4 linked regions of the Homo sapiens genome follow. The protein of the gene in region 4 interacts with the protein of the main gene of each other region in a pairwise test. Each region holds a gene or a part of one and is shown on either strand. Other genes may lie near its edges.

The links.
Region 1: the proteins of PAXIP1 (region 4) and FUCA1 interact in a two-hybrid assay, tested with the Homo sapiens proteins (one large-scale study listed by BioGRID).
Region 2: the proteins of PAXIP1 (region 4) and NPC2 interact in a two-hybrid assay, tested with the Homo sapiens proteins (one large-scale study listed by BioGRID).
Region 3: the proteins of PAXIP1 (region 4) and C2orf42 interact in a two-hybrid assay, tested with the Homo sapiens proteins (one large-scale study listed by BioGRID).

Annotation. Positions count from the first base shown.
Region 1 is NC_000001.11:23,851,277-23,854,987, reverse strand, and holds part of FUCA1 (tissue alpha-L-fucosidase precursor), read left to right. Parts: intron 1-427; coding exon 428-628; intron 629-3,711. UniProt on the Homo sapiens protein: Alpha-L-fucosidase is responsible for hydrolyzing the alpha-1,6-linked fucose joined to the reducing-end N-acetylglucosamine of the carbohydrate moieties of glycoproteins.
Region 2 is NC_000014.9:74,483,292-74,487,002, forward strand, and holds part of NPC2 (NPC intracellular cholesterol transporter 2 isoform 2 precursor), read right to left. Parts: intron 3,146-3,711; coding exon 3,038-3,145; intron 1,297-3,037; coding exon 1,124-1,296; intron 1-1,123. UniProt on the Homo sapiens protein: Intracellular cholesterol transporter which acts in concert with NPC1 and plays an important role in the egress of cholesterol from the lysosomal compartment.
Region 3 is NC_000002.12:70,163,506-70,167,216, reverse strand, and holds part of C2orf42 (uncharacterized protein C2orf42), read left to right. Parts: intron 1-1,581; coding exon 1,582-1,689; intron 1,690-2,024; coding exon 2,025-2,125; intron 2,126-3,711.
Region 4 is NC_000007.14:154,944,041-154,947,751, forward strand, and holds part of PAXIP1 (PAX-interacting protein 1), read right to left. Parts: exon of another isoform or gene 3,653-3,711; intron 2,813-3,652; exon of another isoform or gene 2,774-2,812; coding exon 2,639-2,773; exon of another isoform or gene 2,553-2,638; intron 2,548-2,552; coding exon 2,472-2,547; intron 2,454-2,471; exon of another isoform or gene 2,386-2,453; coding exon 2,325-2,385; exon of another isoform or gene 2,320-2,324; intron 581-2,319; exon of another isoform or gene 125-580; coding exon 109-124; 3' UTR 1-108.

The DNA of each region.
Region 1 (3,711 bases), on a different chromosome or scaffold from region 4:
GGGCATGGCCCCAGGCAGGTCCTCTCCTGTTCATTTCTCCTCTTATAGAAAAAGTGATTTACCAGATGATCTTTAAAGCAAGCTCTCCCAGCCCTGACATGTATCTCTGCAGCAGGGTTTCTCTACCTCAGTACTGTTGACATTTAGGGCTGAATATTTCTTTGCTGTGGGGGCTGTCCTGTGCATTGTAGGACGTTTAGTAACATCCCTGGTCTCTACCCACTAGATGGCATACCACCCCCGTTGTGACAATCAAAAATGTCTCTAGACTTTACCAAATGTCCCCTCCAGAGCAAAATTGCCCCCAGTTGACAGCCACTGCTCTAGACTAAGTTTCTTGCTTCCAAATAGAGCCTTACCAAAGTGTATTACATAAAGAAGTCAAGTGGTTTTACTCCTCATGACCAAATATTCTTTCCCTCCTTAGGATGAGGTGGTAGTAAATGACCGATGGGGTCAGAACTGTTCCTGTCACCATGGAGGATACTATAACTGTGAAGATAAATTCAAGCCACAGAGCTTGCCAGATCACAAGTGGGAGATGTGCACCAGCATTGACAAGTTTTCCTGGGGCTATCGTCGTGACATGGCATTGTCTGATGTTACAGAAGAATCTGAAATCATTTCGGTAAGAGCACCTTTGAGTTTTTTGTTTTTGTTTTTTTTTTTTTAACATGCAGTATGATTTATTTTATATAATGTTCAAAAGCTTGCAAAAACAGCATATTGTTTACAGATGCATATTTTGGAGGTAAAATTATGAAGAAAAGCGAGATCATTATAAACAAAATTTAGGAGGGGGCTGGGATGGAGAAGGGCATGCAAAAGGGCTTTAACGGTGTTGGTTGTAATCTATATCTTAAAGTGGGTGTGGGTAGTAGGGTGTCCAGTTTTTTATTTATTTATTTATTTATTTATTTATTCTTTATTGATCATTCTTGGGTGTTTCTCACAGAGGGGGATTTGGCAGGGTCATAGGACAATAGTGGAGGGAGGGTCAGCAGATAAACAAGTGAACAAAGGTCTCTGGTTTTCCTATGCAGAGGACCCTGCGGCCTTCCGCAGTGTTTGTGTCCCTGGGTACTTGAGATTAGGGAGTGGTGATGACTCTTAACGAGCATGCTGCCTTCAAGCATCTGTTTAACAAAGCACATCTTGCACCGCCCTTAATCCATTTAACCCTGAGTGGACACAGCACACGTTTCAGAGAGCACAGGGTTGTGGGTAGGGTCACCGATCAACAGGATCACAAGGCAGAAGAATTTTTCTTAGTACAGAACAAAATGAAAAGTCTCCCGTGTCTACCTCTTTCTACACAGACACGGCAACCATCCGATTTCTCAATCCTTTCCCCGCCTTTCCCCCCTTTCTATTCCACAAAACCGCCATTGTCATCATGGCCCGTTCTCAATGAGCTGTTCGGTACACCTCCCAGACGGGGTGGTGGCTGGGCAGAGGGGCTCCTCACTTCCCAGTAGGGGCGGCCGGGCAGAGGCGCCCCTCACCTCCCGGACCGGGCGGCTGGCTGGGCGGGGGGCTGACCCCCCCACCTCCCTCCCGGACGGGGCGGCTGGCCAGGCGGGGGGCTGACCCCCCCACCTCCCTCCCGGACGGGGCGGCTGGCCGGGCGGGGGCTGACCCCCACCTCCCTCCCGGATGGGGTGGCTGCCGGGCAGAGACGCTCCTCACTTACCAGACGGGGTGGCTGCCGGGCGGAGAGGCTCCTCACTTCTCATATGGGGCGGTTGCCAGGCGGAGGGTTTCCTCACTTCTCAGATGGGGCGGCTGGGCAGAGACGCTCCTCACCTCCCAGACGGGGTCGCGGCCGGGCAGAGGCGCTCCTCACATCCCAGACGGGGCGGCGGGGCAGAGGCGCTCCCCACATCTCAGACGATGGGCGGCCGGGCAGAGACGCTCCTCACTTCCTAGATGGGATGGCGGCCGGGAAGAGGTGCTCCTCACTTCCTAGATGGGATGGCGGCCGGGCAGAGACGCTCCTCATTTTCCAGACTGGGTAGCCAGGCAGAGGGGCTCCTCACGTCCCAGACGATGGGCGGCCAGGCAGAGACGCTCCTCACTTCCCAGACGGGGTGGCGGCCGGGCAGAGGCTGCAATCTCGGCACTTTGGGAGGCCAAGGCAGGCGGCTGGGAGGTGGAGGTTGTAGCGAGCGGAGATCACGCCACTGCACTCCAGCCTGGGCACCATTGAGCACTGAGTGAACCAGACTCCATCTGCAATCCCGGCACCTCTGGAGGCCGAGGCTGGCGGATCACTCGCAGTTAGGAGCTGGAGACCAGCCCGGCCAACACAGCGAAACCCCGTCTCCACCAAAAAAATACGAAAACCAGTCAGGCGTGGTGGCGCGCACCTGCAATCGCAGGCACTCGGCAGGCTGAGGCAGGAGAATCAGGCAGGGAGGCTGCAGTGACCCGAGGTGGCAGCAGTACAGTCCAGCTTCGGCTCGGCATCAGTGGGAGACCGTGGAAAGAGAGGGAGAGGGAGACCGTGGGGAGAGGGAGAGGGGGGAGAGGGAGAGGGAGAGGGGAGTTTTTTGTTTTTTTTAATGAAATGGGGTCTTGCTCTGTCATGCAGGCAATAGCGCAGTGGCACGATCATACCTCACTGTAACCTCAAACTCCTGGGGCTCAAGTGGTCCTCCCACCTCAGCCTCCTGAGTAGCTAGAACTACAGGTGTGCACCTCTACAACCAGCTAATTTTTAAATTTTTTGTAGAGACAGGGTCTTGCTATGTTGCCCAGGCTGGTCTCAAACTCCTGGCCTCAAGAGATCTAGCCTCAGCCTCCCAAAGCACTGGATTACAGGCATGAGCCATGGCAGCTGGCCTGAGTTCACTATTTTTTAACTATGGATCTCAAACCACTTTTTATTATTATTATTATTATTATTACCTTCTAACATACTATATGATTGATTTTAATTATTTTTTTCCTCTTTTTTTAAATTTTACTTTAAATTCTGGGATACAAGTGCAGAGTGTGCAGGTTTGTTTCATAGGTATACATGTGCCATGATGGTTTGTTGCAAACTATCAACCCGATATCTAGGTTTTAAGCCCCACATGCATTAGGTATTTGTCCTAATGCTCTCCCTCCCCTCACCCCCACATTCCAACAAGCCCTGGTGTGTGATGTTCCTCTTCCTGTGTCCCATGTGTTCTCATTGTTCAACTCCCACTTATGAGTGAGAACATGTGGTGTTTGGTTTTCTGTTCCTGTGTTAGTTTGCTAAGAATGATGGTTTCCAGCTTCATCCATGTCCCTGCAAAGGACATGAACTCATTCTTTTTTATGGCTGCAAAACCAGCTTTTTTATGTAAGAGTGATGTCCAGCTTCATCCATGTCCCTGCAAAGGACACATTCTCTTTTATGGCTGCAAAACCAGCTTTTTTATGTAAGAGTGATGGAAGTACTCTGGATAGAAGTGCAGGTCAATAGAACCCTTTTAAGGACATTGAATAGACTAACAGAAACCTGTCCTAAGGAAATAATTAGAGTTACACAAGAAAGTTGTGCAGAGGTCCTTCCCAGGATTATTTGTATGTATGTATGTATGTATGTATGTATGTATGTATGTATGTATGTGTATATTTATTTATTTATTTATGAACGAACTTCACTCTGTCACCCAGGCTAGAGTGCAGTGGTGCGATCTCGGTCTGCTGCAACCGCCGTCTCCCGGGTTCAAGCAA
Region 2 (3,711 bases), on a different chromosome or scaffold from region 4:
GGTTGGCAATAAATGTGACCTGGAAGATGAGTGAGTAGTTGGCAAAGAACAGGGCCAGAATTTAGCATGACAGTGATGGAACTGTGCCATTTTAGAATAATCTGCAAAGTCAAAGGTCAATGTTAATGAAATATTTTATGACCTGGTCAGACAGATAAATAGAAAAACACCAGTGGAAAAGAAACAGCCTAAAAAGAAATCATGTCTGCTGCTCTAGGCCCATAGTCAGCAGCAGCTCTGAGCTAGGTTACAGGAATGAAGAACTATTGCCTAATTGGAAAGTGCCAGCATTCCAGACTTCAAAAAATAAATTTGAAGAGGCTTCTCCTGTTTTATACATTATGTGAAGAATTTAGATCTTATATTGGTTTGTATAAGTTCCCTGGAGAAAAAAAACTGCTCTGTGTATATCTCTTGGAAAATAAGACATAACAGATGTGAAAATATACTTGACTCTAATATGATTATACAAAAGAGCATGGATGCATTTCAAATGTTAGATATTGCTACTATAATCAAATGATTTCATATTGACCTTTTTATCATGATTCCTCCCTATCAAGCACTAAAAAGTTGAACCATCATACTTTATATCTGTAATGATATTGATATTGCAGTAGATAACTTTTTTGAATCAATTACCTCATTTTATATTTTAAAAATTATGGAATATCCTCTGTCATTATATTCTAATTGAAATTGTGCATAATGCTTTGGAAAAATGGGTCTTTTATAGGAAAAAAACTGGGGTAACTGATTTCTACGACTTTCAAAGCTAAAATATACAATATACTAAACCAACTCTAATATTGCTTCTTGTGTTTTACTGTCAGATTAAATTACAGTTCTTATGTATGATTAAATTTTAGTATATTAAAAAACAAATGGCATCATTAGGCCCAGGCTAACCATCAGGTCATAGTGAAAGAATGAAGAGACACAGAGAAAAAGACCTGCCCTACCTCCTGATGCCTAACACCGCACCTATCTCCTTTCCCTCGGGCTTCTTCTTCATCATAGAGATAAGGGGCCCTTTACCCCCATCTCTGCTTCTTGCCCACTGCCCTCAGAACTCTAATCCAGTCCCAAGGCCTCCCGTGTCCTCAATAATGGTATCACTTACAGAGGGATATTCGCTTTTCACTGGTAGTTTATTCAGGTAGCTATAGGTCTTGTCTTTTTGGATAGGGCAGTTAATTCCACTCTTACAACCATCAGGCTCAGGAATGGGAAAGGGAACTGGGACGCCCATCAGGATGCCATGCACCACGGCCTTGCTGCTTTTAGACTGAATATCTAAGAGAAAAAAAGAGAATCAGATGGCAAAGAAAATAACCTATTTTCAAACTCTAAATCAAAAATTCAGAAATAATCCCAAGCAACAGCATTCCTAGGGTCTATTTCTCTTGATAGTGGTGCTTGGTACTAGCACAGTGCAAGCATTCACTCCAAACACAATTATGCAAAAAAAAAAAAAAAAAAAAAAACAATCAGCAGAAGTTTTCTTTGCTCTTAACCTTGCTCTTCATGGCCCTTCACAGTTTCTTAGGAGAATCAGAGATACCTGGATAAACAACCTTATCTAACAAGGCAACTGATTTTTGGCAGTAAACTTTCTGTTTGCTATTTATATCAGCTTCTGTCCAAGTATATTGTGTGTCTTAAATGTCATGGTCTGTAACAACAGTGAAAGAGGTAACCCTTTAGCAGGGTAAGATTAGGCTGGATCACAGTAGCTCCCACCTGTAATCCCAGCACTTTGGGAGGCTGAGGCGGGTGGATCATCTGAGGTCAGGAGTTTGAGACCAGCCTGGCCAACATGGAAAAACCCTGTCTCTACTAAAACTACAAAAATTAGCCGGGCGTGGTGGCGCATGCCTGTCATCTCAGCTACTCAAGAGGCTGAGGCGGGAGAATCGCTTGAGCCCAGGAGGCGGAGGTTGCAGTGTGCTGAGATTGCGCCACTGCACTCCAGCCTGGGTGACAGAGCGAGACTCTGTCACAAAAAAAAAAAAAAAAAAAAAAAAAAAAAAGAAATTGGGTAAGATTAGAAAGACATGCAATTCTTTATAAACTTTACCCTCCACATCACAAGATGGCCAGGAGGAATAAAGGTATTAAAAAATGAGGGCAATCAGACTTATGAGTTATTAGGGTATTTTGGAGACCCAGAAAATTGGTTCTGTTTCTTTCCTTCTGTCTGGGTTGGGGATGACTTGTTCAGAAGGCTTTTTTTTTTGGTTTGGAACAATAGAGAGGCCAGGGTATAGTCCAGAGAGGAAACAGGGAGCTAGTACTTAGAGCTGTCTTTAGGCTTATGAACAAAAGATGACAGGAACTTTGAGGTTTCTTATTAGACTGTCTAGTCTAGTTTCACAGGACAGAAAATGAGGAAAAGATTCAAGGAACATGCCCTGCTTAGTAATAAAAGATTTTACATTTGTCTAGATTCTTAAAAATCTCAAAGTGATGTGGTACAAGAAAGCAAAAAGTTCCAATGATATTTCTTGAATATTGGAGAAGAAAGCTCAGATTTCTTGGCTATTTCTTGGGTCCCCAGTGGGTTCCCTAAATCTTAAGGAGGCTGTTAAGTATTAGTTGCACCTTTATTTTCAGGTGGGATGTAGACTTAATAGCTGAAAGGCATTACTGCTTAAAACAACATTTTGGAGGAGTTCCAAAGCTTAAAGAATTGGGGTCCATACTAATACTCTGCAGTCTGTAGCTAAACAGAGCTGACATTCCCATCATAGCCTACTATGCAATATGGGTCAAGACAGAAAAGCCAAGCTGTCTTCTCTAACCTGTGAACACATGGACATCTCCCTGTTTGCTTAAAGGGAGTCTGGGAGCCATGGACCCTGCATGAGAAGGGTGTCCAAGGGCACAGTGAACCCTAGCTTTGCATGAGGTGCAAAAGAAATCATAAAATTCATGACTGCCAATTCCCCTCCCCTCCATTCCCATGCTTATTCCAACACTTGATATTTAGGTTATGCTGTAACATGAATTTGAGTTAAGAGCCACTTTTACGCACTGCTGGTGAAGGTGACATTGACGCTGTAAGACTGTCCTTTGCTCAGCTGGCAGGGTTGGGTGGGGCATGGGCTCACATTCACTTCCTTTATAACTCCATCCACAGAACCTGCAAAAGAAAAATGAATTGGAATAGGAGAATAGGAGGAGAAATAAGCCAGCTAGGCTGCCCACCACCTAATGGGAAGGTGCTCTGCTCTCCCATTTAGGGTCAACTCATTCTCCTCGGACTGTTTCCCAGGATGGAATCTTTAAGAATAATGCCCAATTAGAAGTCAGAATCTTGATTCATCTTGCTGCTAAAATCATAGCCTTTAATTCAGATGATAAAGAAGCTAGTTGGTTTTTTGATCAAGAGAAAGTTAATATTTGTCAAACTAAATAATATCAAGACCATATCCATAAATGATCATATTAAAGGAATTAAACTTCAATCAGAGAAATTCCAAACATTCCTAGAGTCTTATCTCGCATTCTTAATGGTAAGGGTCACAGTTTAAACTTAAACCTTGAAGACGTTTGCTTCAACCTTCCTTTGGATGAAAATATTCCTATTTTCCCTTTCTTTTTCTAGCATATAGATTAGCATGTAAATCTGATGAAAGTTGTTCACTACAGGAACAACTACATTTTTTTTTTTTTTGAGATGGAGTCTTGCTCTGTCACCAGGTTGGA
Region 3 (3,711 bases), on a different chromosome or scaffold from region 4:
CCGGCTAATTTTTTGTATTTTTAGTAGAGATGGAGTTTCACCATGTTAGCCAGGATGGTCTCAATTTCCTGACCTGGTGATCCACCTGCCTCATCCTCCCAAAGGGCTGGGATTACAGGTGTGAGCCACTGTGCCTGGCCGCAAGGTTCTTTAAGAGGTTGGTTAAGTACTTTCAAGTATTTTACCTGCCTTGAGGTCATATTCAGAGAGAAAGACAGATGCTTGCTGGGTAAGCAGTGTCCTAACTTGTAGTCCCTCAGCATTCATGGTGCTGACCATCGGGTGAGAGAGCATGTCATTAGTTTGCTTAGACATGAATGCAAATAGCAAGAACCTGGGGATAGCGAGCAAAAGGGAATCAAGTGGAGGCAGCCACCTCGGCCTCATTGTTCTCATCCCATCTTACTTCGCATACCCTTTAAGGGGGAAAGTCTGTGCTGTGTTGGTCTTTTTAAAATTTGCGGATTTGAAATGTTATACTTGGTGGATGACAAGGGTCTACTGTGTTGGTTTGTTTTTTCATTGTCTTTTTTCTTTTTTTTCAGTGGAGTCTCACCCTGTTGCCCAAGCTAGAGTGCAGTGGCATGATCTCGGCTCACTGCAACCTCTGCCTCCTGGGTTCAAGCGATTCTCCTGCCTCAGCTTCCTGAGTAGCTGGAATTACAGGCACACACCACCATGCCCAGCTAATTTTTTTTTTTTTTTTTTTTTTTAGTAGAGATGGGTTTTCACCATGTTGGCCAAGCTGGTCTCGAACTCCTGACCTCAGGTAATCCACCCACCTCGGCCTCCCAAAGTGCTGGGATTACAGGTGTGAGTCACCACGCCTGGCCTCTCTTTTCTTTTCTTTTTTTTTCCTTTTTGAGGGAGGGTCTCACTCTGTTGCCCAGGCTGGAGTGCAGTGGCGTGATCATGGCTTACTGCAGCCTCAACCTCCTCGACTCAGTTGATCCTCCCACCTCAGCCTCCCAAGTAGCTGGGACAGCAGGTGCATACCACCACGCCTGGCTAATTTAAAAAAAAATTTTGGCCAGGCACGGTGGCTCACGCCTGTAATCCCAGCACTTTGGGTGGCCGAGGTGGGTGGATCACGAGGTCAGGAGTTTGAGACCAGCCTGGCCAACATGGTGAAACCCCATCTCTACTAAAAATACAAAAATTAGCCAGGCGTGGTGGTGCACGCCTGTAGTCACAGCTACTCAGGAGGCTGAGGCAGGAGGATTGCTTGAACCCGGGAGGCAGAGGTTGCAGTGAGCCGAGATCATGCCATTGCACTCCAGCCTGGGCAACAGAGTGAGACTCCATCTCAAAAAAAAAATTTTTTTTTATAGACACTGGGTCTTTCTTTGTTGCCCAGGCTACACTGTGTTTTTTATGTTTGCAAGGGATCAACAGTAGGACTAGTGACAGTTCTTGGCCCAGAAAGGTCAATCAAAGCCTTCTTTTTGCCTCTGTATAAAGAAATCTCAGTGGTATTTTTAGTTATTACCGTCCCTTGATTCCTTTTCTTTCACCTCTCCCTGTACATCAGAAAGTCCACTGAGTTTCTTTAAATGAGTTGTTTCTTCTTGTTTCCCATAGGCAAACCAGAACCATTGGTGTTCCACATTCCTCAGTCATTTTTTGATGCCCTGCAACAAAGAATATCTATAGGAAGTGCAAAAAAACGGCTCCCCAACTCCACCACAGGTACAGGATTTCCCTTTGGTATAGTGATGGATGTCTCGAACATAGAGAATTATGTTTGGAAAAAATCTGTGTGGAATATTCACCGTGAGTATTCAGAGTTAGGACTTCTACTCACATGTCTGGAGCACAAAGCCTTCAATGATCAGCATATCAATTATCTACATCAACTGATTTGTCACCAAAACCTTTTATATATTTGCCTCTAGAATTTCTTTTTAAAAGTGCTGAGAATCTATAAGGAAATAATAGTACTGTATTAGAAACTAGGTAACAAATACAACAAAAGAAAATGTTATTTTTTGGTAATCTAATTTTGTCCTTTTTTCACGTTGAAGCTTTTGTTCGGAAAGATGCCTTGCCACTGGGAACCTTTTCCAAGTATACTTGGCATATCACTAATATCCTGCAAGTTAAACAAATCTTAGATACCCCAGAGGTGAGAGTTTATTTCTATAACAGTGGGAGGGTTGTGAAGGGAAGAGAGGGAGGCAAGTACAGGGACTATATTTGCACTGGTTCCTTGAGTTACAGACACCAGAGTTTCTTTTTTTCATGCTAAGAGATATTCAGAAATATCCCTGGCTTTATAGTTCTGACTCCAATTTTAATGTGTGTTCCCTATGGCTTGAAAAAAGTATCTTAAATTGGAATATACTTTTCCTTTGCCTTTGGGATTAAAAAAACATAATTTTTCTTATAAATTAAATAATGATCCCCTAATACTTATGATGAGTCCTAGATTTGACTGGCAGGCAGCTAGAAAGTATATAAATAATTTGAGATGATATAATATTTGTGAAGTCAGTGGCACCAGCACAGTTAAACCCTCCTCCCCAAACTACAGCTTTGTTCTCATTAGAGAAATGACCCTTTTTATTTTATTTTATTTTATTTTTGGGATGGAGTCTTGCTCTGTCACCCAGGCTGGAGTGCAGTGGCGCAATCTTGGCTCACTGCAACCTCTGCCTCCCGGGTTCAAGCAATTCCCTTGCCTCAGCCCCCCGGCTAGCTGGGATTACAGGCACGTGCCACCATACCCGGCTAATTTTTGTATTTTTAGTAGAGACAGGGTTTGACCATGTAGGCCAGGCTAGTCTCAAATTCCTGACCTCATGATCCTCCCAAACTGCTGGGATTACAAGGCATGAGCCACTGTGCCTGCCCGAGAAATGACCCTTTAAAAAAAATTTTTTTTTGGTCTTTTTTTTTTGAATTTTGGTTTTTTTGGGACAGAGTCTTACTCTGTTGCCTAGTCTGGAGTACAGTGGTGCAGTCACGGCTCACTCTACCTCCACCTCTTGGGATCAAGTGATCCTCCCACCTCAGCCTCCTGAGTAGCTTGGACTACAGGCATATGCCACCATGCCCAGCTAATTTTTGTAGAGATGGGGTTTCCCCATGTTGCCCAGGCTGGTCTCAAATTCCTGGACTCGAGCAATCTGTCTGCCGCAGTCTCCCAAAGTGCTGGGATTACAGGCATGAGCCACCAGGCCCACCCTATTAATTAAAAAAAAAAAAAAATTTAAGATAGGGTCTTGCTATGTTGCCCAGGCTGGTCTCAAATTCCTGGGTTCAAGCAGTCCTCCCATCTTGGCCTCCCAAAGTACTGTGATTACAGGTGTAATCTGCCTCTTCCAGCCACACTAGACATTTTATGTTTTTATTTTTATTTTTTGGAGACAGAGTCTCTTGCTCTGTTGCCCAGGCTGCAGTGCAGTGGCACGATCTCGGCTCACTGTAACCTCCACCTCCCAGGTTCAAGCAGTTCTCATGCCTCAACCTCCTGAGTAGCTGGGACTATAGGCACGCACCATCATGCCTGGCTAATTTTTGTATTTTTAGTAGAGACAGGGTTTTGCCATGTTGGCCAGGCTGGTCTCAAGCTCCTGATCTCAAGTGATCCGCCCACCTTGGCTTCCCAAAGTGCATGGATTACAGGCGTGAGCCCCTGTGCCTGTCTTACACATTTTAAAATGTTTTTCGGGCTGGGTGCGGTGGCTCACGCCTGTAATCACAGCACTT
Region 4 (3,711 bases):
AAAGCAGCTGGAAAACAAGAGCATGTGAAGGAAGCGCAGCAGCTCCTCGCCAGCCAGACAGCCAGCCCCGCACCGCAGGAGTCGACATGCACGGCAGCCTAGACGCCATCAGTTAAACTTATATGTAGGCTTGTTGAGGAAAACGACTTTCAAACACAAGGCAAAAGAAAAACATGAAACCAAGGGTTCCAACATTCATCATCCAGTTTCAGAGACACCCTTGAAGGAATGCTACAGCCTCTTTCTTACCCATTCAAACCAGTCGCTCTGCTGCATACCCACATCACAGGAGGCCCTCAGCCCCGACACACAGGCTCACTCAGCCCGGGGACATCAGCACCTGTGCCAGCTCCGCAAGGTATCCACCATGCGGCCAGAACTGAGGCCCAGCAATAGCTGAAATGTCCTTTAAATTAACATGTACAACACACAACCCCCAAGAGCTGACATCCCCAAAGCCCCACCACAAATAGCTGACTCCTACTTATACCTGCAGGAGCAGGTAGTGACCTCTGCAATTCTAAACCGTCCACTTTGGGCAAAATTCATCAAGCTATGGATATGAAAAAAGGCCCCCAAGGTAATACTCATAAGTCTCCTGTATGACTTTTAAAGCAATTTCTTCTGAAAGTAAATGTAGTGTAGAACAGGCTTTCACAAATACAAACATGAATGTTAGGAAAAAGTCTGGAAAAAATGCAAGAGTACATGTTGTATAAAAACCAAATGCTTATAGCATATCTGTAAAAATTTAACAGGCCTCTTATCATTCCTATCAGTAGCTCCTACAATAATTTTCTAATAGATGGCGGTATGGAATACAGCAAGCTCTGGTATGAATGGTAAGAGCGTTTCTGCACCAAGCCTCATTCCAACTAGACAGGCTATTTATTTATGGCTAAACATGACATTGGATTCTGGGACTGAGGCAAATTTTACTTCTTTTTTTTTTTTTTTTTTTTTAAAGACAGAGTTTCGCTCTTGTTGCCCAGGCTGTAGTGCAATGGCGCGATATTGGCTCACTGCAACCCCTGCCTCCCAGGTTCAAGTGATTCTCCTGCCTCACCAAGTAGCTGTGATTACAGGTACCCGCCACCATGGCCAGCTAATTTTTTCTATTTTTAGTAGAGCCAGGGTTTCACCATGTTGGCCAGGCTGGTCTCGAACTCCTGATCTCAGGTGATCCACCTGTCTTGGCCTCCCGTGCTGGGATTATAGGCATGAGCCACCACGTCCGGCCAAATTTTACTTCTTAAAAGTGCTTTTCTCTCAGTGATATCAAGGTCTTCTGTCTACTATTATAACCATAAGCTCTTTAGCGTTAAGAGGAAAATGTTTGATAAATGTAATTAACTGGATGAATGTCAGTGTATTTAAATGTAAATATACTTAAATGTAATTACCTGGATGAAACAGGCACACACGAAGAAAAAAAAACTCGGCAAGGATGGGTATCATTCTGACCTCTGCGCCTTACTGAAGCAGTCCTATCCCAAACACAAAATTCCCCTGCTTAAGGAAAGGTCCACTGAGGTTGACACTGGTCAGAGGTGGCAGAGGCTCCCACCCTCACAGAGAGGAGGAGCTCCAGCCTCATTGCAGGAGGCCCAGGGAGAAGTCCTGAGAACAGCCCTGAGAGAAGGTGCTCTGCAATGGGAAACGGAAGTGGAAACAGAATTTTCCCATAAGGACCTGTAAGGCATGTTTTGCTTCACTGATAGGCTGTTCCTACATTAAAATAATAATTCAGAGATTTTTAATAAGGAATTCAAATAACAGATGATGAGCTTTATTTTTTCCTGAATGTCTGAAATAGAAAAAAGCCTAGGTGTCAATATTCTAAAGACTGACCTTTGCATTTTCCTGACATGTTGATGAAGTATTCATTCTGCCGCTTCCATTTAGTAGTAATTTATCTCCCATCCCAAAGTTCCTGAGTACAAAGACTATATACGAACTAAATTTCATTTGGAAAACTACAAACTCAAAGGTGAGCTGATAAAAAGAAACATATATTTATTTTTGCAATTATTTTCTATTTTATCTAATTGTCAAATTCTTTAATACCTCCATAAACTAGACAGTATAGATCCTTTCTAATTAACATCACCTATTAAAACTGAACTCTCAGTAAGTTAAGAGAATATTTTTACTAGCAACTCAAATGAATATTCTGAAGAGAAAAGAATTGTTCACTGCATAAATCACAATAGCAAAGAAAGGAAAAATGGCTTGCAAAACAGGAAAGGTACTGCCTTATTAACCTGGGAAATCCATTTCATATCTAACCCGTCTACTTTTTAATTCTCTTTTGGAAAGGATATGATTCATAGTCCAGCGTTTGAGTGAGCACTCCAGTCAGAACGAACTCTGCATTGTGAACATCTGAACAGGGTGGAAACAGACACTTTAGTTAGAGATCCACTGCTGTGCGTGCACACATACTCACACAGGTAAGCGGGGAAACGTACCTATGCCTCTGGCAAAATATTCTCGGCATAAATGAAGGTCATTTTCACAGGATATTAAAATTATTTCCGACAAACTCTAAGGAAAAGAAAATGAGTTTCTCAGTGACCGAACGCTGAATGTGATACAGGGCAATGACGGACTCGCTGGCGGACTCCACTCTACCCACCGAGTTCTGCTTGTGCTCCATGAGCTTCCGGAAAGATGGCTGCTTGGATAACACCTTTCCTCCTGCACACTCTACGATTGCCTTCATAGTGGAAAGACTTGGGCAGATTCCAGGTGTGATGTAAAAATATTTTGCCTAAAATTAAATGAAAATATATGTATTATGTTCTTAAAATGCTTTAATTTTTAGAGTACATAATTCTCATAGATTCTGCCCTGAGATTTTTGACAAAATTTCAAATTTTATGACATTATGAAGGTACTATTCTCCTACTAGCACTCAATCTGAAGTGGAAGAGGAATCCAGCTATGTAAATTTGGAATGTAAGCATTTTCACATGTTAAGTATGCCTGAAGATGATTTAAAGTAACCAGAACTTAAGTCCCTAAAACAAAGTGTTTTGTGAATAAGCAAGAATATTACAAATATTTTTCACAATTTCTATACAATTTTAAATCAGCATTATATTTCACCACACTTATCTGCCCAGCAACAGCCTCTGGCATAGCATGCTGCCTGGCTTATATCCCTTTTCTTTATTTTCTCCATATTATTTGAACTCAGAGCAGGAAATGATATTGATGCTTAAGATTTAATTATCTAACAAGATTGCTCCTGAGGATACCACAAAATACTATTCTGTCTGAAACTGCAAATAATTTCTAATTCCTGTTGACTCCTTAAGAAGGTTAAAGAACCGATTATCTTTATTGATTTACTTAGTTCTTTGGTACAAAAAAAATTCCTAGCTGTTCTAACACTTATCTAACATTTAAAAATCTTTTAGTACTGAATTATATCTATGCACACACTGAATATTTTCCCAAGTATCTTCTCCAGCTGAATATACATTTACTGACAATAGTACGAAGTAAGCGATGTCCTCTAAAGATTTATTAAAAGCAGAAAAATGAACATGCCTCTTAACCAATTACTCAAAAACCTATTCTTTGAATAACTTATTTCTCATAGATGTATTTATTAAATTTGTGTACTTATTTTTAAACATTATAGTAAAGAAAAGTTCTCTAGAGATGTGCTGTGGTTCACAGGAGGAAGACCTCCAGTGGCAA